Linked DNA regions of Homo sapiens. The protein of the gene in region 2 interacts with the protein of the main gene of each other region in a biochemical or structural test. Each region holds a gene or a part of one and is shown on either strand. Other genes may lie near its edges. The genes, in order: SMAD1, PARD3, F11R and JAM2.

Region 1 (7,025 bases), on a different chromosome or scaffold from region 2:
CTCTACAGAGAATTTGTTTTTCTTCTGGCAAGCTGTTAGAGAGCAATACCCATCACCTAGACCAAGGCTAGGATTAAGATGATTCTAGATTGGTTGTAAAGACTGATCCGTTTCATTTTTGCCCTTAGACTGGGGCATATTCCTCCAGGAGCTTCCATTGAAAGCCTAGACTATTTACCAGGGTTTCTCCTCAGCAGGCCCTCAACTCCATTTGTTGCTGTGTTGTTATTTTGGGGTTCCTCAGCGCTATGAGGCTACTAGAAGCTCTGCTTAGTTTTTAGCCTCTTAGTTACCTCTTTCTGCTCGGCTCCTAGACCTTTTGCTGCTCATAGCATAGCTATTGGCAAATCCCTGGAAAGAGTGGTGACGAATATTCAGCTCACTTCATTGCATTTCCCCTCTCTCCAGGATCTTGGCCCCCTCAAGTCCTGAGTGCCTTGGTTCCTCTTTGATGCCTTTAAAAAGCTGGGCTTTTGTTTGTTTGTTTTCTGGCTTGTTTGTTTGGAAGGAGGTTGGTCTGATACGTGCTACTCCAGTTTAGCCAGGGTTTGTACAAAGTTAACCTCCTTAACCTTTTTCACATTTTATGTTTTCATGTGCTAAAGAGTAAACAGTTTAAATGAGGCAACTTGGCTAAAGAATTTGGTACAGTATGTGTCCATGTGCTTTATTCCTTTTATGTCAATAAATAGCAACATTTTTAAAGCAGGAGATGTATTTCCTATCCTATTTGTCCTGTAGCCCATAGACACAGGCTTGTTCACTGAAGAAATACCCTAAAATATTACTACATTTATATAAGAGGAATTTTCTTTTAGCCTAAGAAATATTTGTAGAACAAACCAAAAAAACAGAGATATTAGACTATTTTTTTCTCCCTGTTGCTTTCAGTTTTTGTTGATTGAGGTGTTTTGAAATATATTTTTAGAGGTTATAAATGAATCTAAATCTAAAATATTACAATATCTTTTGAGAACTTGGGCTTTTTAACTTTGTTGCTTTTATCCCAGAGCTTTTGCTAACAGTGGCTTACTTTTTAAACTGCTTCTCAGTTTACTCATCTGTAAAGTGGCAGCAATTGTATTACCTAACTCAAAGGATTGTGAAAAGCATTAAATGCTATATATTAGTCTGCTTTGGTTGCCATAATAAAATATCATAGACTGGGTGGCTTAAATAACAGAAATAGATTTTCTCTTTGTTCTGGAGTCTGGAAAGTCCAAGATCAAGGTTCTGGACAATACAGGCTCTGGTGAGGGCTCTCTTCCTGGCTTGCAGATGATCACCTTCTTGCAGTACCCTCAGTGTGTGTGCATAGAGGCTGGAGGAGGGAGATAGCAATCTTAAGACCACCAGTCCTATCAGGTTAGGGCCCCACCCTGATGACCTTACTTAACTTTAATTACTTTCTTAGAGGCTCCATCTCCAAATATAGTCATACTGAGAGTTAGGGCTTCCGCATATGAATTTTAGGGGTCACAATTCAGTCCACAGCATACTGTATTACATAAAAGCACTTAAAATAGTACCTAGCACATGGTGATTACTTAATAAATGTGGTTGTATGGTAAAGATGATTCTAACCATTCTTTTTTTGTTTTGTAGGTGCTGACTGGGTTACTTTTTTAAACACTAGGAATGGTAATTTCTACTCTTCTGGACTTCAAACTAAGAAGTTAAAGAGACTTCTCTGTAAATAAACAAATCTCTTCTGCTGTCCTTTTGCATTTGGAGACAGCTTTATTTCACCATATCCAAGGAGTATAACTAGTGCTGTCATTATGAATGTGACAAGTTTATTTTCCTTTACAAGTCCAGCTGTGAAGAGACTTCTTGGGTGGAAACAGGGCGATGAAGAAGAAAAATGGGCAGAGAAAGCTGTTGATGCTTTGGTGAAAAAACTGAAGAAAAAGAAAGGTGCCATGGAGGAACTGGAAAAGGCCTTGAGCTGCCCAGGGCAACCGAGTAACTGTGTCACCATTCCCCGCTCTCTGGATGGCAGGCTGCAAGTCTCCCACCGGAAGGGACTGCCTCATGTCATTTACTGCCGTGTGTGGCGCTGGCCCGATCTTCAGAGCCACCATGAACTAAAACCACTGGAATGCTGTGAGTTTCCTTTTGGTTCCAAGCAGAAGGAGGTCTGCATCAATCCCTACCACTATAAGAGAGTAGAAAGCCCTGGTAAGTGAGTTATTTTATGTTGATGTGCTTTGTGTGCCCAGTACCAGATTTGTGTTGTTTAGAACATGAAAATAATCCCTTTGCTTGTTTTTAGTTGTAATTTAAAAATATTTGGGGAAACTGTGTGTGTGTGTGTGTGTGTGTGTGTGTGTGTGTGTGTGTGTCTGTGTGAATGCAAGAGAGAAAGCCCCTGAGTGTTTCATACATTTTAACAGCTTAGTCATCTCTAGTTAACATTATGTCTTGGGAGCAGGCTATGACAATTGTCATTGCAGTACTAATACCTCTAATTTTTAATAAATTGTTTTCTTTCTAAATTTATTTTTTATGTCTCACATGGTTCTCTGCATTTCTCTAGATAAAATTAGCTATGAATTGTATTCTAAGGGAAGAAAATTAGGAAAGAAATGCATTATTGCTGTCTATATGCTTAAGGGAAGTACATCATGAGGGTAGTTGCCAGTGACTTAAACCATTCTGAACTTAAGAACAGCACTTTTTATCATCTCTGGCGGAATTTTGCTGTGGCATATTTCCTATGGTGAATATGAAGGAATTATATCCTTCTATGGAATCATTTGATGCTATTACTTTATAAAATATACCCAGTTTTTACATGTATAGTCTTTTGGGAGGGTATGGTAAAGGATATATTTTAAAATTTATACGGTTTTGCCCTCAAGTTAGAATCTACATTCTAGAGAGTTGGATCATTGGAAAGTGATTAGATATTCAAGCACTTAAATGTCTCATTGTCGATTGGGACCAATTTTGTTGATGGATTGGCTGTTAATAGTTCCTGGGTTACTAAGGCTGTATATTAGAATCACATGGCTCTCCTCCCAGAAATCCTGATCCTGGGATAGCCTGGTAATCTTTGTTTCTAACAAGTACTTCAGGTGTTACTGATGTAGCTATTGGATTGGTGTTTAGGAATTACTAAACTAGATCATGTAATAACATGGTTTTCAAATAAAAGGCATTCTGTATTTTTGTGGAATATTTAAGACATATTTTAAAAAAAGATTTTAAAGACCAGTAGTATAACAAACATCTCTGTATCCCCTACTCATTTTAAGAAATAAAAGATTACGTGTAAACTGGAACCCCTGTTTTTGCTCCTCTGATTCTGCTCCCTTTGGTAACCACTGTTCTGAATCTGACGCTTATCATTCTCATGCATGTTTTTATACTGTTATTACATATGTATGAGTCCATGACAATATGTAATATTTTATATATTTAAAAATGTTACATAATATTGGAGTTTCTTTGTACAACTTATGTTCATCCAACATTACGTTTTTGTGATTTCTAGATTATATACTTTAGGATTACCTTGTTAAGTCCTATGAAAAACACTTTGGGAATTTATTGGAATTTCGTTGATTTCATTTGGGGAAGATTGGCCTACTGTGCTCTTGAGCATAATATTATTTAGTGCACTTTTAAGTTTCTCCATACAGCTCCTGCACTTACTAGATTTATTTCTAGATAACTGGTTTTTATTGTATCCTTTTAAAAGTTACATTTTGTTACAGTTGCTCTTGGTTAAGAGAGCATTGCCTTTTTTCTAACAACTGTGCTGAATTCTCCTTACCAGTTTGGATATAGACGTTCTTTACTGCTTGTTATATCAGCTGTGATGCAGTGTTCTTTTTTCTAAACTCAGCACAGAGGTACATGTCCCTCTTCTAGCCAGAAATGGAAATGGAGCTAAGAGTTTTGGAGAGTAAAATGTAGTAGATAAGTAATATGTACCAGCAATATTATTTAGGCACATGATTTTTTTGATCCTCGTAGTAACCTTAAAATGTATTAATACATAGGTAAGATTTTAATTCTACTCCATATGCGATGAAACTGAGGCCCCTACAAGTTAAGTGCCTTGTGTTAGAACTAGAAAATAGAGGCATTTGACATGAAAGGCAAAATTCACTATTTAAAAGACACTATGAATATGTCTTCTCCATCCATACTCCCCCTCACCCTGCGCTAACCTTCCAGCATTTCATCTTGCAATGCAGCAACTGCCTCCTGACTGGTCACCCCCTTCAGTCCATTGTCTACAGAAAGGGATCTTTTAAGATGCAGACATGATCCTCTTGTTGTCCTACTTTTCCCTACTCTTGAGAAGTCCTCTAGAGAGGTCTGCACATTCTGGTCCTTTCCTCCCTTTCCAACTTCCTTTGTACTCTTGCATGCTTTGTGTGCTTGAGTTCTCTGGAAACATTCCATGCACGTTTCCTCTATCTGTACCTGTTTCTCCTCCCTCTTTGTCTAGCCCACTCTTATTTATCGTTTGTGTCTAGCACATGGTCATTACTTAATAAACTAAGTAATTGTGTGATGGAGGTCAGTTTCATTGGGAAACCTTTCTTGATACCTCCTACTTCACACATATCTCCCTACTCTGCTTGGGGAGGTTAGGTCTCATTTCCCATAGCAACCTGAATTTCTTTAGAATGTTCTTCACACTTATAATGATTGTTCTGTTGGTCTTCTCTGCAAGATAGTAAATAAAGCTCCATGAGGGCAGGGACTATGTGTATAATTAACATCTCTATTTTTAGCAACAAGCATAATTTGATAAATTTTTGCTGTTAAATGGTGATGCTGATTTTTAATTTAATATCGTCATTTGGCCATTTTTTTAGTGCTGAATTTTCAGTTTATCTATACCTTTTGACCATCTTCTTCCCTTCTTTGGTCATTTTATGGCTATTACACCTCTGATACAAGGTGAAAAGTTAAAACCAATACTGAGATGAATTTGTTACTCTTAATAACATATGTGCTAATAAAATAATGGGGAAGAGGTGGAAAACTGGCTTACATAGGCATTTTGAGACTCCACAAATGCCATTTCAGCCTCTCCTTTACCCAGGAATCTTGTGAGTCATGGATAGAATAGAACAGTTCTGGAAAACATGGAGGCTGAGGCTAAGATCTATTTAATTTGAACATATCAAGATTTTATGTATATTTTTCACATTATGAAGTGACTGATGTGGGAATTGGAACAAAGGACTTTTTCCAGAGACCACTATGAAGCAGTCCCTGTACCTTCTGAAGAGAAACTCTACTAAATCAAAGTGCAAGAGGCAGCCAGATGTGGTGGTACATGCCTGTAGTCTCAGCTACTCAGGAGGCTGAGGTGGGAGGATCACTTGAGCCCCAGAGTTGAAGGCTGCAGCACACTATGATCATGCCTGTAAATAGCCATTACGTTCTAGCCTGGGCAGTGTAGTGAGACTCTGTCTCAGAAAAATAAAGTTAAAAAAATGCAGCATAGTAAAACCCCATCTCTACTAAAAATACAAAAATAAGCCTGGCGAGGTGGGGGGCGCCTGTAATCCCAGCTACTCGGGAGGCTGAGGCAGAAAAATCACTTGAACCTGAGAGGCGCAGGTTGTAGTGAGCCAAGATCATGCCATTGCACTCCAGCCTGGGGGACAAGAGTGAAACTCCATCTCAAAAAAAAAAAATAAAAATGTGCAAGGTGACTTAGCCCCTCACACTGCCAGAATTGAAGCCCTCTATAAAGCCGTACAGAGTACACCTGGGTATTGTTTTTGTGAAATCAGAAAAAGGGGGTCTGGAATTCTAAGCTGCACATATACACAGCTCAACACTGAATTATTTTGAACTTTGTCACTATTTTACTTCTGATGAAGTATCTCAAAGAACAGTTTAGCAGTTTAACATATTTAAGTCTCCCAAACTTGGTGACTTCTGCTGAGGTCTCAATGACTCTTGAAAAAAACTCAAAAATTGAGAATATTTAGGTTTAGAGTAGTGGTTTTCAAAGTGTCGTCCACAGAGTAGTAGCATCAGTACCACCTTGGAACTTGTTAGAAAAGCTAATTATTATTTTTAAATTGACAAATAATTGTATATATTTGTGGAATACAGTGTTATGTTTTGGTACATGTATACATTGTGGAATGATCAAATGAGGCTAATTAACATATCTGTCACCTCCCATGTGTATTTGCTTATTTCTTTCTTTTTCTTTTTTTCTCTTTTTTTTACTGCCTATTCTCTGAACCATTTTTTTGTTTGTTTGGTTGGCTTTTTTTTTTTTTTTTTTTTTTTTTGAGGTAGAGTCTCGCTCTGTTGACCAGGCTGGAGTGCAGTGGCATGATCTCGGCTCACTGCAACCTCTGCCTCCCAGGATCAAGAGATTCTCCTGCCTCAGCCTCCCGAGTAGCTAGGATTACAGACGTGCATCACCACGCCCAGCTAATTTTTGTATTTTTAGTAAAGATGGGGTTTTACCATGTTGGCCACGCTGGTCTCGAAGTCCTGACCTCAGTTGATCCACCTGCCTTGGCCTCCCAAAGTGCTGGGATTATAGGCGTGAGCCACTGAGCCCAGCTGAACCTTTTTTTTTTTCACCATACTAATTTCTTTTTGGTGAGTACATTTAAAATCCACCCCTAGCCTAAGCAACATAGCAAGACCCCGTCTTAATTTTTTTTTTTTTTAATTAGCGAGGCATGGTGGCATGTGCCTATAGTCCTACCTATTCAGAAGCTAAATCAGGAGGATCACTTGAGCCTAGGAGGTCAAACCTGTAGTGAGCTATCATCATGTCGCTGCACTCCAGCCTGGGTAAGAGAGAGACTCTGTATCAAAAAAAAAAAAAAACCCACTTTTTTAGCAATTTTGAAATATACAATGTATTATTAACTATAGTCACCATGCTGTGCAATAGATCACCAAAACTTACTACTTCTAGCTTAAGGTTTGTACCCTTTGACCAGCATTTCCTCTGTCCATGTTCACCCCTCCCTGCAGCCCCTGATAACCACCATTCTAATTCTACACTCTACTTTTAT
Region 2 (7,025 bases):
CAGATCATGTTTATGGCTTTGGATAATAACCAACCAAGCCAAAAATAAAAAATAAAAAGGAAAAGAGAAAGGTCCCAACTCTCAAATCACCAAGGCTTTCTCTGCAGTAAACATTTTCTGGTGTGGTGGGGCTAATTTTCTGGCATTGCATGTGAGCTGTTTTCTCTTCAGATTACACAAATCAATTTTTCTGGATAGTGAAGTGTCATGATTTAATACTAGACATGTCCTCAGTGAGTAGATATTTGAAGGCTTATGCTTAGTCATGTGTGACATTTCTTTTTTCCTCTCCTGAAAGATGGTTTTGTGGTTGTGATCACTGATGGTTGGGAATAGCTGTTCATCCTCATCCACCCATCTGCATTAGGAGCCTCGCTGAGGACAGTGCGGTGCTAGACATTGGGAACCGCGTTACATGGACCGTTCTCATGAGGGCGCAGGATGGGAGGATGGACCGTGTCTGCATCTGTTCTTCTGCGCTTGCGACCTGACACGCGTGATTCCAGGTGGACATGGTGCTGAGCTGCAGCGCTGTGTGGGGTTGGTTGAAGGGCTGCTGTGTATAAAAAGTCATGCTCTATGAAAAAAATATAAGACTGAATTCGTGCAATTTTCAAAAAAAAGTATAATCTAGGAGACAGGAAGAATATATAACAGTATAAATAACAGGAGGTGGTAGCATTAATTGGCACCACTGTGATACAGTCAGTAATCGCTTCTGGATTTTGGAGGTGGGTGCTATCATTATGGGGTGTGTGTGGGAGTCTCATTTAGTCACTAGGATTTGAACTGGGCTTGGTTGGTGGGAAGGCTGACCTTGATATAGGGCAGTGCTTGCTAACTGGGTGAGGCACCTGCCTGCAGGGGCAGATGGGCTCTGGGTCTGAGGTCTGCAGTTGGGGTCTAGGTGTGTGAATCTGCAGAATGTCTGCTACGATTCTGATAAGTGAAAGGGAGGGCATTCCAGGAAGGCAGTATGGACAAAGGCGATTCAGGCATTCAGCCCAGGGGGTCAGGATCAAACTGAGGAGGACAGAATGCCAGGGCAAGACCCTGAGACTTCGTGCAGTAGGAAGGACTGTGGTGTTTAGCTAAGAGTCAGGGTAACAAGTAGTTCTAGGAGGATGACCTGAGCAACCTTAGATGAGGTTTGGATGGATAATTCCTTAGCATTTCATTCTAAATAAAGGTTGCTGAGTGACCAAAAGGGGAAGGAGAGAGTGAAGGGCAAAAGTGAGGGCAAGGAGGTGCTGGAGCCCCTTTGCTCACTGTTCCCACCTCCCTCATAGCTCTCCTCTCAGCCTGTAGGGGAGCTTTGGATTGGGTTTGGTGACTTAGGTTTACAAGCCATTTAACCTTGGGTATAGGGGAGCTTTGTATTGGGTTTGGTGACTTAGGTTTACAGGCCATTTAACCTTGGGTACACCAACCCTACGGAGCCCCATTATCTCAAGTGGAATATTCCCTGGCAGGGTTAATGTAAGTATTAAACAGGATGATGAGAGGGAAACTCTAAAGTCCTGGGCCCGGCCCATACTAGCTGCTCCGTAAAGATGAATGGAATCACCAATATGTTTTATCCACCAAGCAGTTTTACACCCAGGGAACTTTCCCAGGTGTCCCACTATTGCTGCTTGGATTTTTCCTGTTTACTTAAAAACGCAGCATGTAATTTCATTGAAGGATAGGTAAGAATGTGAGATTGAATGACGTGCAGCACCACAATCAGGAGAACAAAATTGTGTGTTGCATGTGTGTATGGGCTGGGGAAGTAAAAGCTGCGGGTATTGGCTTGATTACAGGTTGATTATTGGGGCCTCTGGCTTCTGTCCCCAAGCACATCACTTTAGAGTGATTTAATAGCAACCTGTTGTTATTACAGGTTGAGCATCCTTTATCCAAAATACTTGGGACCACACAAGTATTTTGGATTTTTCTGGACTTTGGGATATTTTTGTATATATAATGAGATAGGTTGAAGATGGAACCCAAGTCTAATGTATTGTTAGAATTTATGTTTCCTACGTACCTTATACACATAGCCTGAAGGTAATTTTATGCAGTATTTTTGTGCTTGAAAATAAGTCTGTGGTAAGTACTTACATGTGGAATTTTCCAGGTGTGGCGTCATGTGGGTGCTCAGTAAGTTTCAGATTTTGGAGTATTTTGGATTTTGGATTTTTCAATTAGGGATGCTTGACCTGTATTTTTTAAAAAGTTGAGCTCATGGACAGAAACTTTTGAAAATGTGCTTTTTTGGTGGCGGGAGACTGTTGATTAGTAACAATGACAGTCATGGTTTTTATGAAAAATCTTGTGGTTGGTATGGAATTTTTCTGTGAATAAATGTATGACTGCATGTTATTCATTTACAAGCGTATTGAAACTTTTAAGAAAATAGTTGTACTGTTGCAGAGATTGAAAGAAAATAGAGGCAAGCATAAAAATAGTGAAATGAAAGCAGCTTTATTTATTTATTTATTTTTTTAACATTTTCTGCCTTCCCTCTAAAAAGGAAAAAGAAACTAAACATTTTTGAAAGGCTGATCTTTCCAGAATTCAAGTCACATTGTCCTCTGGTGCTGAAGCGCCTTTGTCCCGCGTTCTCCAAGTCCTGCCTTCTGAGCACAGCCTGTCCCTGTAGGGACCCCTCTTGCCTTCCAGCCACTCCCTCTGCAGCTGCTCCACCCCCTGGGACTCACATACACTTTGCTGCCTCTGTTCTGGCATTTTCTGTTTCTTCTGCCTGGGACATTTGCTCCTTCCTTGCACTCATTCGTGAGTCTTAGCCCAGACAGCCATCTCCAGGAGGCTGGCTCTCCATCCCAAGCTGCTAGAGGATCTTTCTCCCTGCCTGCTGCCTCTCCTGGGGACGTCCTGGGTGTAGCTCCTGTACCGACTCAGATGCTTGGGCTGTGCTGTGTGGTTTTCAAGTGTATCCGTGCGCCCTTCCTCCCTCCGGGTGAAATGCTTGAAGCGGTGGCTGAGCTTCAGTCTTGGTGAATAGCCCGTGTCTGTCACATTGCAGTCAGAATGTTGAGTAAATAGAAAGCTGAGAATCAACATGTTACACTGCTCTCACACAAAAAATACACTTCTGCTGAGAGGACTATCATCAGCACTCGTGAATTTAAAGGACTTTAAGGTTTGGTGTGTTTGACCTACTGGCACAAACAGCTTGTAATGGAAACTAAGATTTAATGAGGTTTGGAGTACTTGGAAGTTACTCTTTCGTATCAGCTGTCTTGAGGGAGTTCAGTTTGTTTTTCAGCTCAAGCAGAGGACCCTCCTGGGATTCGCCTTGGGCGAGGTTCAAGGCAGGTGGCCAGGGCTGTGTGAGAATCTGGCCCTGGAACACACCTATGCTTGGTCTGGCGCCTCTGATTCCGTCAGTTGAGATGCTTGGCTGAGTGCCAGGACTAAGTAGGAATGTTTAGGATCTGAGATTCTCAGAGAGAATCTGGCGGATGTGAAGCGCTTCTTGGCTTGTGGTAGACATGGATAAATTGGTTGTGGAGGGAATATTTAAAGTCCCACTTGGATGCAAACCCACAGACGGATCCTCCGTCTGTCCTGGGAGGTTCTACCTCCCCACAGAGTTGGGTGCAAGTTGGTGATGTTGAGCTCCCCATAGATGATTAGAGCCCTCGGTATTTTTTATCAAGGATGGAAATAAACATGTAAGATTGGGCCAGAAGGTGCTTTCTATAGGTAATTTTCCATCGGGGGAGATGGCATGCTAAGCCCACACAGCATGCTTTCATCCTGCTTGGCCACTCGCTCAACATTCCTGGCTGGGACCAAGGTCAATGGCAGTAGAGCTGGACATCAGTAAATGTATACAGTTTTACCTGTTTTGGGTACCTTTTCTGTACAAAAGCAAATCTTTATCAAAATAAATGCCGAGTTCAGTGAATAAAGTAGAAAGATGACTGATTTTTTTTTGTCTTTTAGTCATTATTTACAAGTTTTTTCTTTCTTTCTTTTGTTTTTTTTGAGACAGGGTCTTTGTCACCCAGGCTGGAGTGAAGTGGCGTGATCTCTGCTCACTGCAGCCTCAACCTCCCAGGCTCAAGCGATCCTCCTGCCTCAGTCCCCCAAGTAGCTGGGACTACAGTTGTGTGCCGCCACACCTGGCTAATTTTTGTAGTTTTTGTAGAGACGGCATCTCGCCATGTTGGCTAGGCTGATCTCAAACACCTGAGCTCAAGCAATCCACCTGCCTTGGTCCTCCAGAGTGCTGGGATTACAGGCACGAGCCACCATGCCTGGCCTAAATTTTAGCAAATAAGTAAAAATAACTTTGTTTTAACTTATTTAGTAAATAAGTAAACATTTTAGTAAATAAAGTTAAAATAACTTTCGTGTATAGGTCTGTGCCTTCTTGCATCTGGCCTGCTATCTTTACGTGGTTTTTGCCATTTAAATATTACTTTTGTGTATTCCTTTTTTCTCCATCAACTCATATTGGTCCTTGCAAGTAAAATTTCAAGCTCCACATCCAAGTGACTTTAAATATCAATTATTTATTTTTTTCACCTAAACAGAGTATATTTTGTATATAGTCTCTGTACTCTATTCTGTATATATTTTATATATACTCTTTATATATATACACACACACACAAGCACACAAGAGAAATGAAAATGTGTACACAAAACCTGTACATCAGTGTTCATAGCAGCAAGCCCACATATTGTATAATTCTGTTCCTATAACATGACCAGAGTGGGTAGCTCTATAGAGACAGTAGAGTGGTGTTCCGCTAGGACTGGGAGTTTGGAGTCATGGAGACTGTGAATGGGTATGAGGTTTCCTTTTGGGATGATGAAAATATTCTAAGATCATGGTGATGGTTGCACAGTTCTATTCAAGTGTATACTTTCAATGGATGGAGTTTATGGTTATGTGATTATATGTCAATAAAGATGTTAGAAAAATAGACTGCATAAGCCACTATGAACAACGCTCCATTTTTAGGTATTTTGTAGTTCTGAGCATTTCATAAAATGACATATATATGTGTATCAGAGATGCTCAAAACACTTCAAATGAAAACTGGCTGTCTTTAGGAGTTTTCCATATAGTGTGGAATCCCTGCTTTCTCAGGCCTGTCCAATGTGTCCTGTTTAGTGTCTGGTAAGCTCCTGGCTGCTGAGCCTCCAGGTCCCCTGGTCTCTGTGTGCTACCCCCTACCCCCTCTAAGGGCTTCACCAATTGTTCTTTAGCCAGAGACTCCTTCTACCCAGCTCGCCAGCTACCTTTGTGCAGTGGAGGTTGAGAATGCCCCAAGGATGCACGTAATGGACCAGCCTTTCCAGCATTTGGCTTTGGCTCCCAGAAATTTTGAGCTTTGGCAAATCTTACAAGCTCTGTGAGCCTCTGTTTCCCCATGTTCTCATATTCAGAGGTGCTGGGCTGGACTCCCACTGCCAGTTCCCTGAGCTGTGCAGGGACTCCTGCTCTGCATGGTTTGTTTTGGTGCTCATGGGACCATAAGTGATGTGCAGTGGCTTTTCAGATGGTTATACAGGGTCCAGGACCTCTTACTGCTTCCCTCCATGCTGTGAGAATATTTTGCCTCACCCCGACCCCCCCAACTTTGAAATGACGGGGCTTGCTCTCCAGGTCAAATGGATGCTATTCAGAGTTAGGGTAAATTTTGCTTAGGGTTGGCTGGGTGAGAAGGCTCACGCCTGTAATCCCAGAGCTTTGGGAAGCTGAGGTGGGAGGATTGCTTGAGGCCAGGAGTTCAAGACCCAGCCTGGGCAACATAGTGAGACCCCGTCTCTTTTTAAAAAAATTAGCCAGGCATAGGCCGGGTGTGGTGGCTCACGCCTGTAATCCCAGTACTTTGGGAGGCCGAGGTGGGTGGATCACGAGGTCAGGAGTTCGAGCCTGGCCAAAGTAGTGAAACCCCATCTCTACTTAAAGTACAAAAAATAGCTGGGCATGGTGGTGCACACCTATAATCACAGCTACTTGGGAGGCTGAGGCAAGAGAATCACTTGAATCCTGGGAGGCAGAGGTTGCAGTGAGCCAAGATAGCGACACTGCACTCCAGCCTGGGCGATGGGGAGATTCATCTCAAAAAAAAAAAAAAAAAATTAGCCAGACATGGTTGTGTGCATCTTTAGTCCCAGCTGCTCAGGAGGCTGACGTGGGAGGATTGCTTGAGCTCAGGAGTTTGAGATTGCAGTGAACTATGATGGTGTCACTGCACTCCAGCTTGGGTGACACAGCGAGACTCTGTCTCTAACAGAAAAAAAAAATTTGTCTAGGGTGTCCTTCAGAATTTCCTTCCTTCTTCCTTTTTTTTTGTCTTTTTGAGACGGAGTCTCGCTCTGTCGCCCAGGCTGGAGTGCAGTGACGTGATTTCGGCTCACTGCAAGCTCCACCTCCTAGGTTCACGCCATTCTCCTGCCTCAGCCTCCCGAGTAGCTGGGACTACAGGTGCCCACCACCACGCCTGGCTAATTTTTTTGTATTTTTAGTAGAGGTGGGGTTTCACCGTGTTAGCCAGGATGGTCTCGATCTCCTGACCTCGTGATCCGCCTGTCTCAGCCTCCCAAAGTGCTGGGATTACAGGCGTGAGCCACCGCGCCCGGCCCCAGAATTTCTTATTGTCTCAAGGTAAGTATCTTTTAATGTAAATCACATCATGCTCAGAAGTGACTAAGACAATTCCCTTTGTGAATTACAGATGTATGATATTGCATGATACGAACTGTACGGTGTATATATATATATATATATATATATGCACATACGTGTGTATTTCTGGGGTGATCTTTTATGGTGGTATAAATTTAAGTCATTTTAGAGATGATAGTCAAGTCAACATTCTCCCAATCTTGGTGTTTTTAACTATTCAGACACTGTAAGATTTAAGGTTTTGGAACTCAGATGTATATTTTTCTAGTGTCTGGTTTTTCCCTTCTTGTATTTGAGACGGAGTCTCACTTTGTTGCCCAGGCTGCAGTGCAGTGGCAGAGTCTCGGCTCACTGCAACCTCTGCCTCCTG
Region 3 (7,025 bases), on a different chromosome or scaffold from region 2:
GACCAGGAGTTCTAGACCAGCCTGGGCAATGTAGCAAGAACCCAGCTCTTTAAAAAAAAGAAATTCCAGCCTGGACAACATGGTGAAACCCTGTCTACTAAAAATACAAAAAATTGCCGGGCGCGGTGGCTCACGCTTGTAATCCCAGCATTTTGGGAGGCCAGGGCGGGTGGATCACCTGAGATCAGGAGTTCGAGACCAGCCTGACCAACATGGAGAAACCCCATCTCTACTAAAAATACAAAATTAGCCGGGCATGGTGGCGCCTGCCTGTAATCCTAGCTACTAGGGAGGCCGAGGCAGGAGAATCTCCTGAACCTGGGAGGCGGAGGTTGTGGTGAGTCTAGATTGCGCCACTGCACTCCAGTCTGGGCAACTAGAACAAAACTCCATCTTAAAAAAATAATAATAATAATACAAAAAACTAGTTAGAACTAGCTAGGCGTAGTGGCGGGCGCCTGTAATCCCAGCTACTCAGGAGGCTGGGGCAGGAGAATCTCTTGAATGTGGGAGGCAGAGGTTGCAGTGAGCCGAGATCACACCACTGCACTCTAGCCAGGGCGACAGAGTGAGACTCTGTCTCAACAAAAAAACAAAAGAAAAAAAAGAAAATTAGGCCGGTCGCCGTGGCTCACGCCTATAATTCCAGCACTTTGGGCGGCTGCAGCGGGCAGATCACTTTAGGTCAGGAGTTTGAGACCAGCCTGGCCAACGTGGTGAAACCCCATCTCTACTAAAAATGCAAAAATTAGGCCAGGTGCAGTGGCTTAATCACGCCTGTAATCCCAGCACTTTGGGAGGCTGAGGCGGGCGGATCACCTGAAGTCGGGAGTTCGAGACCAGCCTGATTAACATGGAGAAACCCTGTCTCTACTAAAAATACAAAATTAGCCGGGCATGGTGGCACATGCCTGTAATCCCAGCTACTTGGGAGGCTGAGGCAGGAGAATCCCTTGAACCCGGAAGGTGGAGGTTGCGGTGAGCCGAGATTGCGCCATTGCACTCCAGCCTGGGCAACAAGAGCGAAACTCTGTCTCAAAAAAAAAAAAAAAAATACAAAAATTAGCCGGCATGGTGGTAAGCGCCTGTAATCCCAGCTGTTTGGAAGGCTGAAGAGAATCACTTGAACCTGGGAGGCAGAGGCTGCAGTGAGCTGAGATAGCGCCATTGCACTCCAGCCTGGGCAACAGGAGTGAAACTCCGTCTCAAAAAAAAAAAAAACAAATAAATAGAGAGTATAATAAGAGAAAAAGGATATAGGAGTAACCTATATCTTTAGTCTCTTATCTATAAAATGGGAGAGAGAATACTTATCTGGACTAATTCATAGTGTTATTATATCAGATTGAAATACAGGTATACAAATATTATCTAAACATTAATGCCAAAATTTAAAAAAAAGAACCTAAAGGACTTTAGAGCACATCTATTTCATATTTCAGAGAGGAAGGGGAGTCTCAGAGGTCAAGAGACCATATTCAGTTATGTGCATAATTAAGTAAAAGAAAAATGTACTTGAATTTAACAGATGTGCTTGACTTCTACAAACATTTATCTAAGACAGGGTCCTGACTTGAAGCTACAAATAAAAGGATATTTCATGAATTTGACTTTGAAAACATGGATGAGAATAATTGTGTAAGTGCAGGTTTGTAGCTGCATCATGTGATCCCAGAATCCCTGGTCACTGGTTCTTAATTTGACCTTTGTGGGTCCCTCCTATGAACCCTGATGCACCTCCCCCATATTATTTAATTAGCCTTGTTGCTTCTCCCTCCCTCCACCCAGCACACACTATCTTTTCTTTTCTTTCTCCATTTGGCAAGTAGAATATTCTAATGAGGTGATCTGAACCCACTTCTAGTGCAAACTTCACCTCAGAACCAGTTGTGTGTTTTTTTTTTTTTTTTTTTTTTGAGATTGAGTCTTGCTCTGTCGCCCAGGCTGGAGGGCAGTGGCGCGATCTCGGCTCACTGCAATCTCCGCCTCCCGGGTTCAAGCGACTCTTCTGCCTCAGCCTCCCAAGTAGCTGGGACTACAGGTGTGCCACCATGCCTGGCTAATTTTTGTATTATTAGTAGAGATGGGGTTTCACCATATTGGCCAGGCTGGTCTTGAACTCCTGACCTCATGACCTCCCCACCTCGGCCTCCCAAAGTGCTGGGTTTACAGGCCTGAGCCACCGCACCTGGCCCCAGCTGTGTGATCTTAGGCACATTTACTTCTTGTACTCTCAGTTCCTCATGTAAACTCGGGATAATAATATACGTCTTGCCGATCTGTCATGCTTGTGTCCAGGATCAAATGATGCAACGTGTCATAATGTACACGAAAACACTTTTAAAAGCACCACATGCTCCACAAATGTCGAGTATTATTATTATCCTCATCATGGCTCTGCCCTTCCCTTCCATCCCTTGCCTCCAGCCCTGCTGGCTTCCTTCCAGGATTGTCCTGACAAGTGGCTGCAATCATTTGTTGAGAAGCTTTCTCTGAACAGTGAAATGTCATTCTGGAAGCTGCCCTTGGACTAGTAGAAATCTAATTAGATTATTGGGAGTCACAGAGAGAAAAATTAGAAGCAAAAGAAACTGCATTCCCATGGATAAAAGAAGTATTAGCTGGCAATTGTAGCAAAAAGCACTTAAAGAAGACATTTAGGATCATGGTGACAAAGTGTGAGAGCCAGAGGGAGCATAAGTCTGGAATCCCTTCCTCTTAGGGTCTGTGAATGGAGAAGCCCTGTCCACTGGGTCTGTGACTCCTTCTTCCTGGCATTTCTCTGTCCACTCCTGACAGGGCCCACCTCTTTCTTTCTCCTTAGGCTCCCTGGCATTGGGCAGTGTTACAGTGCACTCTTCTGAACCTGAAGTCAGAATTCCTGAGAATAATCGTGAGTTGGGAGGGGCCATGGAGGGTGTGAGGGTGAGCAGTTGCCGGCCGCCTGGGGATCTAGAGAGCACCCAGCCCAGCCTGCAGTTTGGGGCTGTTCCCCATCTCGTGTATTTGCTGCTGCTTCTTCCTTCGGCTCATTTTGACCCTGTCTGCAGCTGTGAAGTTGTCCTGTGCCTACTCGGGCTTTTCTTCTCCCCGTGTGGAGTGGAAGTTTGACCAAGGAGACACCACCAGACTCGTTTGCTATAATAACAAGATCACAGGTGAGTTGCTTCTCCTCCTTCCTGATTGCCTAGGTTGTGGAGGGATTATCATGCCTGGATTCTACGATCCAGACTTTGTGCCCTTATCCCAGGGCACACCCTGGGGCTGAAGTCCTCATGGCCTTCCTACCCCCCTTTCTGGGGGAAGAGGAGAGCACTTGCGTACCTTGGATGCCCCCTTCATCAGCCTCCCTTAGCTCTCCAGTTCACTCTGTCCTTGCTCTTGCCTCCTCTTGTGGTAGCTTCCTATGAGGACCGGGTGACCTTCTTGCCAACTGGTATCACCTTCAAGTCCGTGACACGGGAAGACACTGGGACATACACTTGTATGGTCTCTGAGGAAGGCGGCAACAGCTATGGGGAGGTCAAGGTCAAGCTCATCGTGCTTGGTACGTGCCCCATGTCTTCTGGGTGGGCCTGGAGTTAGTTACTTCTCATAGCAGGCTCTGCTGCACTTTGGAGCTCTTTGATGGTGAGAATACCCACAGGTGGGCTATTCAGAGTCCTGGAGCTGCCAGAGAGGGAGATGAGCCCCTGGTTAGGTGGCAGCCAGGGGCATGGTGAGAGTAGGAGGCTTGAGCTGAGTAGTTGGGGGTACCATTGTAGTTGGTTACTTAGACTCAAGCAGCCCCCACCCTGTACTCAGCACCTTCTGTCTTTCTCTTCCACAGTGCCTCCATCCAAGCCTACAGTTAACATCCCCTCCTCTGCCACCATTGGGAACCGGGCAGTGCTGACATGCTCAGAACAAGATGGTTCCCCACCTTCTGAATACACCTGGTTCAAAGATGGGATAGTGATGCCTACGAATCCCAAAAGCACCCGTGCCTTCAGCAACTCTTCCTATGTCCTGAATCCCACAACAGGAGAGCTGGTATGTATGGGGTGGTGGTGAAAGATGTGTGGGGGATGCAGTTATAGAACCCCAAAAGGTGGGAGGAAGAACAGGCAACAGGGTGAACTTGGAACTGGGGTCAAGAGACATTAAAAAATGTCTATTTTGCTTCTTCAGCAGGAAGCCAATTTGTTTTCCTTCCTCAGGTCTTTGATCCCCTGTCAGCCTCTGATACTGGAGAATACAGCTGTGAGGCACGGAATGGGTATGGGACACCCATGACTTCAAATGCTGTGCGCATGGAAGCTGGTGAGAGTTAGGGCTTGAGCCCAGACCTGGGGTGGGGATTGGGGTCTGCTTTTCATCCTGCCATTGGTGATACTGTAGGTGCCGTGAGTGAGTATCCCCGTGCCTGACTTCTTATTTGTGTCTCGCAGTGGAGCGGAATGTGGGGGTCATCGTGGCAGCCGTCCTTGTAACCCTGATTCTCCTGGGAATCTTGGTTTTTGGCATCTGGTTTGCCTATAGCCGAGGCCACTTTGACAGTAAGTATCTGCCCCCAGAGGCTCTCCTTTGTACTGCCCCCATCCCAGGGCCTGGCATGGGTGTCATCTGAGTACTGACCCTGATACTGTGCTCATGTGTGTGGGTGTTGTCCCCTGGGGAACACTGATCACCCATCTAACACCAAGAGCTGGGGGCCTGCCCCTCCATCTTCCCAAGCCATGCTGTCTTCTGTCCTGCTGACACTCATGATCCCATTTCTTCTCTTTCAGGAACAAAGAAAGGGTGAGTGAGGTGCTGTCCTGGGGTTCTCCAAGTTTGAGAGCATGGATGCATGTGGTTTGAAGCTGAAGTGGGCCTAGGGGAATGGGTTGAAGGCAGAAGCAACCAGTTTGGAGGGAAGGCATTTGGATATCCAGCCCTTTCTCTGTGGCCTTGGCCCTGGGTCTGTCCTGTTACCCCACCCATACCTGTCTGCTGCGCACTCTGTGCTTCTGTAGCATTCTCGCTTCTGGCCTTTAAAGTTGGCAAGGGGAGGTTAATAAGCACCTAGGTGGCTGAGTGTCTCTGTCTTCTGGCTTGTTCACAGGACTTCGAGTAAGAAGGTGATTTACAGCCAGCCTAGTGCCCGAAGTGAAGTGAGTATGCCTCCCCTGGGCAGGGGTGGGCCACCTGGGGCTGGAGTGAGGAGATTTCTAGCCCATGTTTATGTGTTTTGGGGATTATCAGCTAAAGAAGACTATTGAGAGTTGACTGGATGTTTTATTTCTGCAGGGAGAATTCAAACAGACCTCGTCATTCCTGGTGTGAGCCTGGTCGGCTCACCGCCTATCATCTGCATTTGCCTTACTCAGGTGCTACCGGACTCTGGCCCCTGATGTCTGTAGTTTCACAGGATGCCTTATTTGTCTTCTACACCCCACAGGGCCCCCTACTTCTTCGGATGTGTTTTTAATAATGTCAGCTATGTGCCCCATCCTCCTTCATGCCCTCCCTCCCTTTCCTACCACTGCTGAGTGGCCTGGAACTTGTTTAAAGTGTTTATTCCCCATTTCTTTGAGGGATCAGGAAGGAATCCTGGGTATGCCATTGACTTCCCTTCTAAGTAGACAGCAAAAATGGCGGGGGTCGCAGGAATCTGCACTCAACTGCCCACCTGGCTGGCAGGGATCTTTGAATAGGTATCTTGAGCTTGGTTCTGGGCTCTTTCCTTGTGTACTGACGACCAGGGCCAGCTGTTCTAGAGCGGGAATTAGAGGCTAGAGCGGCTGAAATGGTTGTTTGGTGATGACACTGGGGTCCTTCCATCTCTGGGGCCCACTCTCTTCTGTCTTCCCATGGGAAGTGCCACTGGGATCCCTCTGCCCTGTCCTCCTGAATACAAGCTGACTGACATTGACTGTGTCTGTGGAAAATGGGAGCTCTTGTTGTGGAGAGCATAGTAAATTTTCAGAGAACTTGAAGCCAAAAGGATTTAAAACCGCTGCTCTAAAGAAAAGAAAACTGGAGGCTGGGCGCAGTGGCTCACGCCTATAATCCCAGAGGCTGAGGCAGGCGGATCACCTGAGGTCAGGAGTTCAAGATCAGCCTGACCAACATGGAGAAACCCTACTAAAAATACAAAGTTAGCCAGGCATAGTGGTGCATGCCTGTAATCCCAGCTGCTCAGGAGCCTGGCAACAAGAGCAAAACTCCAGCTCAAAAAAAAAAAGAAAGAAAAGAAAGCTGGAGCTGGTGGCTTAGGCCATCACCCTTCCCTTGGCTGGAACTACTGGACAGACCCTTTTGAGATGTGCCTGTGGTGCTGTGGAGATGTGTGTAGTGGTCTTAGCTCTTTGTTGAGCTTGTGTGTGTGTTGTGTAGTCTTAGCTGTATGCTGAAATTGGGCGTGTGTTGGAGGGCTTCTTAGCTCTTTGGTGAGATTGTATTTCTATGTGTTTGTATCAGCTGAATGTTGCTGGAAATAAAACCTTGGTTTGTCAAGGCTCTTTTTTGTGGGAAGTAAGTAGGGGAAAAGGTCTTTGAGGGTTCCTAGGCTCCTTTGTACAACAGGAAAATGCCTCAAAGCCTTGCTTCCCAGCAACCTGGGGCTGGTTCCCAGTGCCTGGTCCTGCCCCTTCCTGGTTCTTATCTCAAGGCAGAGCTTCTGAATTTCAGGCCTTCATTCCAGAGCCCTCTTGTGGCCAGGCCTTCCTTTGCTGGAGGAAGGTACACAGGGTGAAGCTGATGCTGTACTTGGGGGATCTCCTTGGCCTGTTCCACCAAGTGAGAGAAGGTACTTACTCTTGTACCTCCTGTTCAGCCAGGTGCATTAACAGACCTCCCTACAGCTGTAGGAACTACTGTCCCAGAGCTGAGGCAAGGGGATTTCTCAGGTCATTTGGAGAACAAGTGCTTTAGTAGTAGTTTAAAGTAGTAACTGCTACTGTATTTAGTGGGGTGGAATTCAGAAGAAATTTGAAGACCAGATCATGGGTGGTCTGCATGTGAATGAACAGGAATGAGCCGGACAGCCTGGCTGTCATTGC
Region 4 (7,225 bases), on a different chromosome or scaffold from region 2:
AAAGTCTGCCTTACCATCTTTAACAAGCGTCATGAATAGTTTTTTTCTTGGAATGTTCCTGAAACCACCATTGCAAAATTATAACTGAGACAGTGAAAGAGACCTGACCTAACCAACTCCATCTTCTAACCTCCAAGCTGATCTTGTTTATTCCTGGGCGTAGGCTGAACTAACTTTGGGAGGAACTTAGTTCATTGTTTATAGTTTGACACAAAGATGGTGACAACGTTTTCCCAAAACAAACCCCCTTCTTGCCTGGGGACTAGACTGCCTTTGTAGGACTAACAAATTAGCCACGAGATTAGAAATTATGGTTTAAGAGTCATTCAGGCGGAGGCTGTAAGATCCTGACCCTCCATAAACTGCTCCTAAAATCAGTGTTTGAGATATTTCGCAGACCCTGCACTTGATGGATCAGCTGGTGCCACCCCGACGGAGAAACTGGCTCATCTGATCTTGTGGCCCCCACCCGGAACTGACTCAGCACAGAGGACAGTTTCAACTTCCTATGATTTCATCTCCAACCCAACCAATCAGCACTCTCGACCCACTGGTCTTTCCCTCACCTACCAAGAATTATCCTTAAACACTCTGATCCCTGAATGCAGAGAGACTGATATGAGTAATGATAAAACTCCATCTTCCACACAGCCAGCTCTGCGTGAATGACTCTTTCACCATTACAATTGCCCTGTCTTGATAAATCAGCTCTATCTGGGCATCGGGCAAGGTGAACCCATTGGGTGGTTATATTCCTAACACAAAGAAATGATAAATGCTTGAGGACGTGGATATTCCAATTACCCTGCTTGCTACACTGTATGCTTGTATCAAATCATCACCTGTACCCCATAAATATATAAAACTATTATGTACCCATAATAATTAAAAAAATTTTTAAATATTTTTAATATATCTTATGCATTAGTTGCTTTACTAAGTATAAAACTCAAGTCTGCAAATTTTTTCTACATGTTTTTTGGAGGCTTGCTTTCTCTATTATCCATGTGGGCAATACCCTCATAGACACTAAATACAAGAGACAATTCTCAACCCTCTTTTTAGCCTTGGACTGTACAAACACCTCCACCTTTAGCTCCTGATTCTCTCCCAGTTCCTTTTGTACTTTTTGACTGCTCTTTCTTGTGTTCTTTCTCTGGGTTCTTTCTCTTCCTACCTCTTACTGCAGTTATTTCCTTAGATTTATCCATAAACATTCACTTCTTTGTCTGATTGATCTCATTCACTGCTCCTGCCTTCTAGAAAGTTCCTCAAACAATAATCCATAGATTCGTTGCATCAGAATTAATCAAGGTACTTGTTAATAATACAGCTTCCTGGGGCTGCTGAGATTAAAACTTCTGAAACTCAGAATTTTAACATAATTTTAAGGAAAGAATCATAATGAAGGAGCTCCAAAGGATTCTGGGGAGAAGATAGTCCAGTGATCACTGTTCTAGAAGATGCTGCTAATATTTATATTTATTTCTTTAGTCAATCCTGAGGGTTTCCTGTTCTCTAGAGCACTCATTCTAACAGTCTACTGGTCACCCCAGCTATATTTCTCTCTCTCAACTCATCCCAAACCTGCAGGAATTATGTATGCCCTCTATGTTTCTTATTCCTTTAATGACACTATTTATAACCTCCACATACAGCCACCTATGCTAGAAATCTGATACCTACATGTTCTCTCCTTTCTCACCCCTACATCTAGCTGATAACATAATCCTGTTGACCATGTTTGTGAAATATCATCTGAATCCACCCGGTTTTTCATTTATCACACGGTGACCATTTACTTCACAACTTGGTCTCTTTCTCAGGATATTGTAATAGTTTAGACTTGACTAACACCCTGATTCTCTTTTCTGTAATCCATCCTGCACATTTCAATATGAGTCATCATTCTAGAGCAGCACTCTCTTGTAGAACTTCCTGCAATGATGGAAATACATTTTCCAATATGGTAGCCCCTACCCTCATGTGACTATTGAGAAATTCATATGTGATCAGTGTCAGTGGAGAACTGCATTTTACATATAATTGAATTCAAATTTATATAGCCAGCCAGGCATGGTGGCTCACACCTGTAATTCCAGCACTTTGGGAGGCCAAGGCGTGTGGATCATCTGAGGTCAGAAGTTCGAGACCAGCCTGGCAAACATGGCGAAACCCCATCTCTACAAAAAATACAAAAATTAGCCTGCATGGTGGCACATGCCTGTAGTCCCATCTACTGGACTGAGGAGGCTGAGGCAGGAGAATCACTTGAACCTGGGAGGCGGAGGTTGCAGTGAGCTGAGATTGCACCACTGTACTCCAGCCTGTGTGACAAAGTGAGACTCTGTCTCAAATTAAAAACAAAACAAAAAAAATGTATATAGCCACTTAGATCTATAGGCTACCATATTGGACACCACAGTTCTAAAATATGAGTCTTTTCTTATCTCATTGCTTTCAAAAAGCTCATTAGCTGTAGGATGAGGTCTAGACAGTAGCGTGAATGCTCTTCGTACTCTAACCTCCCCTTCAGTTTCTACCACCACCACCACCTACCTCACTATCCCGATCCCACATACACTTTAGTACTGTAGAACCTTGCTTTTTCTAAATAAACCATAATTTTTCAATCTCCTAGCTCTGGATCCTGCTGTTTCCTCTATGTAGAATGCCTCTCCTTTATGTCCTTCCCTTCAGAATTTGACCCATTTTTCAAGGTTTAATAAAGAAAGCCCTGGCCCCACTCCCAACAAAAGGAACAGCCCCTTATCATGGACCTTGGACAAGCCATTTAGTGTCTCTCCGCCCAGTTTTCTCATCTGCAAAGTGGGAATGATAACATTTCCTCTTTTATGGAGTTGTTGGGGGATTAGATATTGCGTTATTCAGACTCCATCACTGAGAAAGCATGCAATAAAAATAGCTGTTATTATTTTCTGTCCTCCTGTAACATTTACCATGTGGTATCAGGCATCTTTCCTGATAAGACTCTGTCTCCCCTCAAGACTGTGAGCTTGTTAGCAAGAAAGCCTCTATCTTGTTCATGGTTGTCCTTCAGCATCCAGCACATTGTTGCCATTTGTCAAATGCCTTGGCTGGGTGGCAAATAAATAACTTAGTCAGTTACTCACATAGGATTGCATAGAATTTTTTTAAGTATGACATTTTTGTGTATATTTTTAGGGAGGAGTAAAAGACATATAGCTGTAGCAAGAATTAGAAAAAAGAAGATGCCAACAACTTTTCTTTTTAAGCATCAAATCCTTCTCATTACTGCCCAGAAAAACTGGCATAAGCTGTTGTTAAATCTGTGCCCCTTCTCCTCGGTTGACTGGAGTACGAGTTTTAACATTTTGCCATTTTGACTTTCCTTTCTGGGTCCCCTGGGTCCTCTCCTCCCACCCCCTCCCTGGGTACTAAGTTTTCATCACTGTCACCACGGCAACAGCAAGGATGCCTCATTCCTCACAGTTCTGCACAGCTAAACTCTGGTCGCCTTTGTCCACTGAGCTAGCTGAATTCTTTTTAAATACACCACTAAATCAACTATCTGCTGTACAGAACTTCATCCATTATTCAACCTTTAAAAAAAAACAAAAACAAAAACAAACAAAAAAACAAAAGAAAAAAACTGATGTATACTAATTTCTTCTCCTGGGAATGGCCTTTTTCCAGACCTGCCAATACTCTTGAATACACCATACATTTTTGGTCCCTAGGAACAAATATAAAAATTGCCAGTGTACGTGCGTCCAATGTAAGTGTGGTGCAATTTTAAAGCACGCAACAGAGCATTCATAATGGGTTTCCCTTTTAAAAGCACAGTAGACCAAAAATAAACCTGACAAAGGGCAGCTGTAGAGTTTTAACACGTGGAAAACTCCACAAGCAGCAGTTATGTAACTTGAAAGAAACATGATAAATATTTCACACCATTAGATGAACTTCCAACTCTGACACTGAAAAAAAAGCAAAGAACAAGAACGCGAGACAAATGCACCTCAAATCTCCAAGGAGCAAAAAGCTTAAACTGAGAAGGGACCAAGGCTGTACTAAAATCTGAGACCTGACTTCCAGCACGAGTCTTGATTGCTTTTTTTTTTCTCGAGTTCGAGGCGGAGCCCGCGAACCCCATCTCCTCAGAGCGCCACCCCCTCAGCTTCGCCCGTTGGGCAGAATTTTCCAAATATCTCCACCCCTAGGCTGAAAAGCCAGAAAGAAGTTTTGAGCCAACGAGGGGAAGAAAGGAGTTGGGGCAAAACAGGAGGCGTTTCCCTACCCGCATACATCCCCGTCCCCGAGACACCCAATCCCCCCACCCCCAGCCTGCCCGCGCCTCCCGCCCCCAGCTCCTCGCCCTGGGGACAGCTGGCAGCCCCGCGCGGACCAGACACAAAGCCGATCAATCCCGGAGGCGTGGGGGCGGAGGGACGACCCGCCGGGGCTTTCCCGGGCGCTGCTCTCCTCCTGCTGCCCCCTCGCTAGGACCCGGCGGACGCCTCGTCTGGTTTTCACGCCCTCTAGCCCCTACCCCCACACCCCCAAAACAGAACAGACCCCCATCCCTGGGCTGGAGGACCCGCCTCTTGGCAGCCAGCTGAGAAGGCGCCCCGGGGAGGGGGAAACTGACATCCCATCTAGAGCCGTCCCTCCTCTTCCTCCCCTCCCGACTCTCTGCTCCTTTCCCGCCCCAGAAGTTCAAGGGCCCCCGGCCTCCTGCGCTCCTGCCGCCGGGACCCTCGACCTCCTCAGAGCAGCCGGCTGCCGCCCCGGGAAGATGGCGAGGAGGAGCCGCCACCGCCTCCTCCTGCTGCTGCTGCGCTACCTGGTGGTCGCCCTGGGCTGTAAGTTGCTCGGGTTCCTCTACCCTTCCTGCCTGGACCAGCCTGCCCCCACCCTCCAGCCCCCCACGGGGCGCTGGCTGACAGTGTCTGGGCGGCTCTGGGCCGAGGTCGCCGCGGGGCGTCTGACCTTGCGCCCAGGCGAGCGGGAAACCCAGGGTGCCCGCGAGCGGACGCTGGGAGCAAGGGAGCGCGAGGTCGTGGGTTTCTTGTGAATTGCGTCTGATTTTGTCAGTTCTAGATACAGAAAATTAAGGGTTCCCACTAGCAGGTTCTCATCTGTTTGCAAAGTTGGGGTAAGTTTTCAGACAGAGGGACGTGATTCGAATGCAAAACTCACTACCCACTGGTAAGATGCTAAGACCCCAAGAAAGATGGCATCACTGGGAGGCGGGCGCCGGCCACACTTTGAGTCCCCGGGGAGGGGGCAGCGTCCGCGTGGTCTGGGCTCTGTAGCGTCCCAGCTGAGCCGGCGATATGCAGCGCACTTGTGGGGCGGAGGTGGAGGGAATTCGTGGCTGCTGAGCCAGAATTACTTTTATCCTCTCCACCTGCACATCTACATTCACTTAGAGAAGTCTGGTCTGGGGACTCTAGCCAGCTGCTCTGTCCTCAGGGGACATCCAACGGGACGATTGTTAGAAAGATTCAGAAGCCACATGATCCAGTAGCTGGGGAGACGTCCCAAAGCCAATTTCACCGGATGATTTTAAACAGGATTTTCACGGATTCTGGACTCATGAGATTTGAAATCCTGGGAACGTTGCCGTTATTTTGTTTTCTTCGCGTTAACTTTTTAGGAAAATGGAGGAAATTACAATAGACTAAGCAATGCAGTTCTACTTTTGCTTTTTCTTTTTTCTCTCACCTTTTTTGTTTTGCTTTTTTCCCTTCCTTCCTTCCTCCCTTCCTTTCTCTTTCTTCTTTCTTTCTCTCTCTCTTTCTTTCTGTCTCTCTTTCTTTCTTTTGTAAAATGAGTTATTGTTGCTATTCACGTTCTGGTAAAGTAACACTTATAATACTTAACCTGCGGGACGAGTGTCTAATACCACAATACAATGATATTTTCTCACGCCCTCGCTGCCCAAGTGATCATCGCACAGCTCAAGTGATGTGAGCCACGTCCCTTTGTGGAGGAGGAAGGTGCACATTGTCTCAGGCAAGGGACATGTACTGACCAATATTATATAAAGTCAAACCAGAAAGCCAAAGTTTCACAATGAAACCCTTGTGCAATTCTGAAATATCAATTGGTATCATATGGAACACACAGAAGAAAAAAAATGCACTCATGCTAAAAGGCAACAGAGAGGTAGGCTGGAGAAATCGTTAACAGAACAACTGAGAAAGTTATGTATTCTGCTGAAATTCTAAATTTCAAATAGAAAAGAGTGTGCCTTTTAGTGTAGAATTGTCACTAATTAAAAACAGAAAATCGTTCTGCTGTGCTATTCCTATTGAATCACCAACATAGAAACAATACACCCCAAGTCTGAAATTGTAGTGGAGAAACAACCAAGAGGCGAACAAAAGCATAAATGAATGGGGCTGAGTGACCTCTTCAAGCTTTAGGTAAATATAACACATTGTCTCTGCTAAACTTGATTCCTATAGGGGATGTATTTGGAAGTGTTGTGGGGACTTTTCTATATTGTTCCTGGGATACTAAAAGATCTGGCATTGCAAGAGTGTTTTCTTTGTATGTGGGTGTTTTTTTTTTTATGTTTAAAACAATTTTAGAACAGTTTGGATTTAAATAAAAATTCCAACGCTAGTATAGAGAGTTCTCATATACTCCACACCCAGTTTCCCACATTGTTAATATCTTACATTAGTATGGTACACTTTATTCAAATTTCCTTCATTCTTACCTAATGCCTTTTCTATTCCAGGATGCCATCCAGGCTACCATATTACATTTAGTTGTCCTGATTCCTTAGGTTCTTCTTGGTTGTAACAGTTTCTTAGGCTTCCCTTGCTTTCTCTTACTATAATGGGTTTGAGGAGTTCTGGTCAAGTATCTGGTAGAATGACTGCGAATTGCTGTTTCTCTGATATTTTTCTCATAACTAGACTGGGGTTATAGGTTTTTTGGAGGAAGATCAGAAAGTGGTAAGGGGCCTAGGTAAAGTGACATTTTCATCACATTATCTCCAGGGAACATACCGTACACATGACTTATTGCTGTTGATGTGAACCTAGGTCACCTGTAATCATACTCCTAATGTAGTGCATACCAGTTTTCTCCACAGATTACCTACCCTTTTTTCTTCATTTCCATACTAGATTTTTTTGGAAGGAAGTCACTACATGCAACCCACACTTCTTCAGGAAGGAGAGTTATGCTCCATCTCCTTGAAGGCGGAGTATCTTCATAAATT

The links.
Region 1: the proteins of PARD3 (region 2) and SMAD1 form a complex in vitro, tested with the Homo sapiens proteins (one study listed by BioGRID).
Region 3: the proteins of PARD3 (region 2) and F11R form a complex in vitro, tested with the Homo sapiens proteins (one study listed by BioGRID).
Region 4: the proteins of PARD3 (region 2) and JAM2 form a complex in vitro, tested with the Homo sapiens proteins (2 studies listed by BioGRID and IntAct, with this or other methods).

Annotation. Positions count from the first base shown.
Region 1 is NC_000004.12:145,512,833-145,519,857, forward strand, and holds part of SMAD1 (mothers against decapentaplegic homolog 1), read left to right. Parts: exon of another isoform or gene 1-650; intron 651-1,605; 5' UTR 1,606-1,781; coding exon 1,782-2,181; intron 2,182-4,181; exon of another isoform or gene 4,182-4,362; intron 4,363-7,025. UniProt on the Homo sapiens protein: Transcriptional modulator that plays a role in various cellular processes, including embryonic development, cell differentiation, and tissue homeostasis.
Region 2 is NC_000010.11:34,805,281-34,812,305, reverse strand, and holds part of PARD3 (partitioning defective 3 homolog), read left to right. Parts: intron 1-7,025. UniProt on the Homo sapiens protein: Adapter protein involved in asymmetrical cell division and cell polarization processes. Seems to play a central role in the formation of epithelial tight junctions. Targets the phosphatase PTEN to cell junctions.
Region 3 is NC_000001.11:160,997,153-161,004,177, reverse strand, and holds part of F11R (junctional adhesion molecule A isoform 1 precursor), read left to right. Parts: intron 1-2,824; coding exon 2,825-2,893; intron 2,894-3,050; coding exon 3,051-3,158; intron 3,159-3,400; coding exon 3,401-3,547; intron 3,548-3,829; coding exon 3,830-4,032; intron 4,033-4,199; coding exon 4,200-4,302; intron 4,303-4,430; coding exon 4,431-4,538; intron 4,539-4,685; coding exon of another isoform or gene 4,686-4,769; coding exon 4,770-4,782; intron 4,783-5,086; coding exon 5,087-5,135; intron 5,136-5,271; coding exon 5,272-5,307; 3' UTR 5,308-7,025. UniProt on the Homo sapiens protein: Seems to play a role in epithelial tight junction formation. Appears early in primordial forms of cell junctions and recruits PARD3.
Region 4 is NC_000021.9:25,635,042-25,642,266, forward strand, and holds the start of JAM2 (junctional adhesion molecule B isoform 1 precursor), read left to right. Parts: upstream 1-4,216; 5' UTR 4,217-4,780; coding exon 4,781-4,847; intron 4,848-7,225. UniProt on the Homo sapiens protein: Junctional adhesion protein that mediates heterotypic cell-cell interactions with its cognate receptor JAM3 to regulate different cellular processes. Plays a role in homing and mobilization of hematopoietic stem and progenitor cells within the bone marrow.